Linked DNA regions of Homo sapiens: region 2 is linked to region 1. The links come from fine-mapping of genetic effects on gene expression. Tissue or cell type: whole blood. Region 1 holds a variant in brackets; the other region holds the start of a gene. All regions are shown on one strand. Distances are between the middles of the regions.

The links.
Region 2: it holds the start of LCMT1-AS1, and the variant in region 1 is fine-mapped to the expression of LCMT1-AS1 in whole blood (TOPMed, PIP above 0.99).

What each region holds. Positions count from the first base shown.
Region 1 is chr16:25,084,091-25,087,009 of GRCh38, reverse strand. No RefSeq gene overlaps it. Among named protein-coding and RNA genes, the nearest start is that of LINC02175, 19 kb to the right of the region's middle. The variant C/T (reference allele first, on the strand shown) is at 1,284.
Region 2 is chr16:25,109,919-25,112,827 of GRCh38, reverse strand. LCMT1-AS1 (LCMT1 antisense RNA 1) reads left to right here and starts at 1,273. Exons shown (of 3, transcript NR_120306.1): 1 at 1,273-1,432. It overlaps LCMT1 (leucine carboxyl methyltransferase 1), which reads right to left and starts at 1,086. Exons shown (of 11, transcript NM_016309.3): 1 at 832-1,086. The coding sequence starts at 944. RefSeq lists enhancers at 779-938, 1,029-1,358, 1,136-1,663.

The sequences.
Region 1 (2,919 bases):
CTGCCTCCTCTCAGATGCCACCCCCTTGAGCTCAGGCTCTTATCTGGAGCTCACCTTACCTGGCCATCTCCTGTGGCCTCCTAACTTTTCACCTTCATCTATCCTTCCTCAGTATTCTTCATGCTGAGACCAGAGTCATTTGAAAAACACATTTATGGCCATATTTGCTCCAATTTTAAATTCTTACACACCTGATTGCTCTTAGGTGTCTAGTGCTTGGTTCGTGGAATATGATCATAACATATGACTGGAGAAATAATTACAGATACTCTGTGTTTTTCCCCAGGATGAAGATCGTCTCCCAAGTAAATATGTTGAGTTTGACTGGGCACCGTGGCCCACACCTGTAATCCCAGCACTTTGGGAGGCCAAGGCGGGCAGATCACTTGAGGCCAGGAGTTCGAGACCACCCTGGCCAACATGATGAAACCCTGTCTCTACTAAAAATACAAAAATTGGCCCGGCATGGTGGCATGCACCTGTAATCACAGCTACTCAGGAGGTTGAGGCAGGAAAATCACTTGAACCTGGGAAGTGGAGGTTGCAGTGAGCCATGATCATACCACTGCACTCCAGCCTGGGTGACAGAGTGATACTCCGTGTCAATAATTAAATAAGTAAATAAATAAGTTGAGGTCAACTTTCAAATGATCGTCATGAGAAAGCTACACAGTATTAAGTAAGTGTGGTTTAGCCAGAAGAAAAAGAACCAGGTAGAATTCACACCCAGCTCTCGGTAGATGGCAGATTTCACTTTAGGGAACTGCTTTCCTTTGACCCCCTCCCCACTTGCTTTCTTGGCCTGGGATCCTCACTCCAGCATGTCGTGCAGTCTTCAGAATGCGATATCCTTTTCCTTACGACTCTTCTAGCAATTAATGTAATTTGCCTGAACATTTAAAAAATGACCTCTCATAATTTCATAATCTGAATCTTTATGTGTCTTTCTTGATCCCCAGGGCATAGAGAAGGTTACCTGGCCCAGACTAGATGTGCAGTAAATGGTTTTTGTATGTGTGAATGAATGGAAGACTGAAGTTAGTTATTATAGATGAGATATTATGGGGCCATTCCGAGTCCGGTATTCAAGGAGTTTGCAAAGTTGCAGATGACAAGTTTGCTAATGTGTGCTGAGTGTTCGTGCCTAGTAGCATGTTAAGTGGTTTGCTTGGGTTGTTTCATTCAGTCCTCACAGCGGACTCGTGAATTAAGTGCTGTTATTATCACGTTTTTGCAGATGAGGAAACTGAGGCTCAAAGAAGATAATGTGCCCAAGGTCACCT[C/T]GCTAGGAAAGAGTGGAGCTGAGATTTAAACTGTGACTTTAAGCCCAAGTTCAAGGCTTCTTACTAGTTTTAACTACATTCCCATACCCCTTTTAATCAATCATGTAAATAAAATCTTAATTCTTTTAAAAAATTAATATGTGTTTCAGCTTGTCCTGTAGAGAAGACTAATACTTACAAATGGGAAATATTCGTCAAGCTTTATTTTTTCTAGTTTGTCTTATGAAATTAAGTTTTTCAGCCTTTCCCAATATAAAGCTATATTTTATATTAAATATGCTTTTTATTTATTTTTTTGAGACGGAGTTTTGCGCTTTTTGCCCAGGCTGGAGTGCAATGGCGCAATCTCAGCTCACTGCAACCTCTGCCTCCCAGGTTCAATCGATTCTCCTGTCTCAGCCTCCCAAGTAGCTGGGATTACAGGCGTGTGCCACCAAGCCCGGCTAATTTTTGTACTTTTTAGTAGAGACAGGGTTTCACCATATTGTTCAGGCTGGTCTTGAACTCCTGACCTCGTGATCCACCCACCCTTGGCCTCCCAAAGTGCTGGGATTACAGGCATGAGACACTGCGCCCAGCCAAGTCTTAGTTATTTCTACATGTAAGTATTTCATGATCCGTTTGTGATTTGGACATCAAATGCTGAGCATAATGCTTCGCTGACCTCACCTGAGACCTGCATCCACTGAATTTTTACTGTATGTGCTTAGGGCCGAATGTAATTAAAGTCTTGTTTATTTACTTCTTTTTTTTTTTTTTTTTTTGTAAATAAGGTCTCCCGTTACGCAAGCTGGAGTGCAGTGGCAGGTTAATAGCTCATTGTAGCCTCAAATGTAGCCTTCCCAGTAGCTAGTGAAGGCCTTTTTAGAGGGGCTCTTGCTTTGAACAGTAGCAAATATATATTTGCCATTTTTGTAGTGAGTGTCTGCATTTGTGCAGTAAATGAGCTCATGAGTAAACTGAGGAGTACATGGACTCATCTCCTCCTCTTTCTTTTCTTTTTTTTTTGGTTCAACATATTTCTGTTGAACAAATGTACATACACACTGAACAGCTATATCCTGTAGTTCAGTATATTTCTGTTGAATGAATGAGTCTCTACCACTTGTTTATAAATATAAACATTTATGTAATTTTAATAGTGAATAACATACATGTTTTGTAACTTGCTCTTTTCATGTCAGCATATACAGATCTGCATCGTTATTTATAATTGCTTTATTGTACTCCTTTGTGGAAATTCCCCTCTATTTAATCTATTTAATCTTAATAGAGGGGAAATTCCCCTCCATTTAATCTGTTCCCTACTGATAATCACTTAGATTTTTGCCTTTTTATTTTTTGTTTTGTTTTGTTTTCTTTTGAAACAGGGTCTCACTCTGTTGCCCAGGCTGGAGTACAGAGACTCGATCACAGCTCACTGCAGCCTCAGACTCCTGGGCTTAAGTTGCCCAGGCTGGTCTTGAACTGAGCTCAAGCAGTCTGCCCACCTCAGCTTCCCAAAGTGCCGGGATTACAGGTGTGAGCCACTGTGCCCAGCCTATGTTTTTATATTAAACAGTGTTATAGCAAATACAAGTATATGTGCATGTTTGCAGGAATCGCTAGTGCAGAGTTTGCACATTATGAATAGCCA
Region 2 (2,909 bases), 26 kb before region 1:
AAACTCTAATGGCACTGCCGTATTTGTCAGCACTCAACACAAAAAAATCATAATTATATATTTCATAGGTAATTATTTGCTTCCTGTCTCTCTTTTCCAACAAAGCTGTGAGTTCCAGTATGTCTGACACCATGTCTGTCTTGTTCTTGGTGTATTTCCACCATCGAATTCCTACTAACCACTGCAAAGTAAAGGCCTGGCACAAAGTAAGGTCTCAAAAAATTTTGTTGAATGAAAGAATAAATGGTGGACATTCAAGCCTCAAGCTTTCTCTTTCTCTGACACGTACCTCTGCTGGCTACGCCCCCATCCCCACCACCACACCCTTAACAGTGGAGACTTAGTGCGGTACTGGCTCTGCAAAGAGATATTACTTGGCTCTGGGTGGGTTATTTCCCCTCGTCATCCTGAGTTTCAGGTGCACAACAGGGATCACACCAACCCCCTAAAGAATGCAACCTACAAAAGAGAGAGAACCTACACCTCTCATCCTCGTAACCCATCGAGGCTGGAGCTACTATTTGCTTCATGTCTGTCTTTCCAGCAGCGTTTAGCTCCAAGAAGCCCAAGGCCTCGTCTGTCTGGCTCAGGGGCCTGCTCCCATCGACGATACCCAGGCTGGCCCCCTGCCTGGCTCACAGCAAAAGCTCAGAAACGATTCGTTAAATAAATGAAGCCCTGCTCCGTGCACTTCACAGGTGGGAAGCGAGGGTCGTGCGAGGCGGGGGCTGCATCCCTGCCAGCCTTGAGCGTATTCTTCAGATGCAGGCCCACCTCCCACCTAGGCCCGCGCCCCAGATGCCGGCCCCGAACCCCGCGCCCGACAGGCACCTCTTGCACAGGGAAGCATCTTCGCAGGTGCCGCGCACGCCCTCGTCGTCTGCGTCGCAGCTCGAGGTGGAACAGCAGGAGGTGATAGAGGATTCCCTCTGCCTAGTGGCCATGGGCGTGGAGGTTCCTGGGAGCTGTGTCCGCCAGGGACATGGAAGCGGGGTCGACGGGCGGCGGGGGACGGCGCGAGCCACAGGGAGAAAGCAACAGAAGAGGGTAGGGCCCTACCTGGCTCAGCTGGCGCGGCTCAGTGACGCCGCCCACGCCGGCTACCCCAGCAACCTCTCCGCTTATTGGCTCCTCTTCCGAGTCGCTCATTGAGCAATTCTCCTGCCCGCTCAGCCTACGAAGTTGCTCATTGGATAATTATTTTGGCACCGCCCACATAACCCGGAAATTTGACGATAGGAAAAAGAAACTAAACAGTAGGAGAGTATCGCAATCCTTTCTGGGAAGCGTAGTCTTAGGTGTCTGGAGAAGTCGCCCGGTTTCTGCTTGCTGGTCGCGAAATTTTATAGCTATAATTAACTCAGGGCGGAACAGCTAGCAGAATCCTCAGCGTTCGGGCAAAGGGCAGAGAATCCAGCCAGAAGCAACATGTGTAAGTTGTTACATTCAGTCCGGGCTCAGTGTCATTCAATTTTACAAAATTTTGTTGTGTGCTGACTCTGCCAGCGACTGTGCTGAGGGCTTTGCCCCCAAAATTGCCTTCGAAATGTAGTGAGGGGGGCGGGCGTAGTGGCTCACTCCTGTAATCCCACCACTGTGGGAAGCCGAGGCGGGCCGATCACCTGAGGTCAGGAGTTCGAGACCAGCCTGGCCAACATGGTGAAACACCGTTGTTACTAAAAGTACAAAAATTAGCCGGGCGTGGTGGCGGCCGCCTTAGTCCTGGCTACTCAGGAGGCTGAGGCAGGAGAATCGCTTGAACCCGGGAGGCGGAGGTTGCAGTAAGCCCATGTGGCGCCACTGCATTCCGTCCTGAGCGACAGAGCGAGACTCCGTCTCAAAAAAATAAATAAACAAATAAATAAAAGAAAGAAAGAAAAGAAATGTAGTGAGGGAAGTAGTGTGTGGAAAAGTAATACAATAGGAAGCCATGTAGCAGCGATCATAAATGAACTAGAGCTACCAGGTAGCAGCATCAATGGCTGAATCTCAGAAACACGATGTTCAGTGAAAGAAGGAAGTCTAACAACACTTTTGTAAAGTTCAAACCAAGTAAAACTAATGTTGTTTAGAGAAACGTACATATATGGTAAAATACTGTACAGAGAAGGCAAGACATGAGAAAAAAAAATAAAAAAGAATCAGGATATTGGTGATCTTTAGGGAGCCGGGAGGGTAGCACACAAGAGGGGGAGGGAGAGGCAGGGAAGGAGCACATAGACACATCCTCAGTTTCTCACGTGGGAGTGGGTTCACGTGTGTCTGTTTCATTATGAGGCATATTCAAGATGTTTTGGATTTATTTTGTACTAAATCTAGTACAAAATATATGTATAAATTCAAGATGTACTGGGGAAGTCGCCTGGTTTCTTGCTGGTGATGAAATTTTATAGCTATAATTAACTCAGGGCAGAACAACTAGCAGAATCCTCAGTGTTCGGGCGATTGGCAGAGAATCCAGCCAGAAGCAACCCTTGTAAGTTGTATATGTATAATAATGTTTAATATACATTATAAATTAAAAATGTCTTTGTATATTCCATTTTGTTATCTGTCAGTTGTTGGAAGCAGGAAACAGATATACTTTAAGAACTTTGAATTGCACTCATTTTTTTAAAAAGAAAATCAACAACAGAAACCCAGAATACACACCTTGGAGTGAGGTCAAATATCAAATGCTAGCTCAGTATTCTAATGGAGGCACAAGATCTCATTGATAGCCACAGTAGAAATGACAAGAGGGGAATGACTAAGGGTGGAGAGCTTTGCCAGGGGGAATGCTGATGGGATGAAATACACCATTTTCTTGGAGTGGTCCTTTGCCAAAAGGGTAATACAAACTATTGCACAAGCATCATCTCCCAGCTTAGCAGTGTCCACATTCCACGGGTGTTAGTGGATAGTAAGTG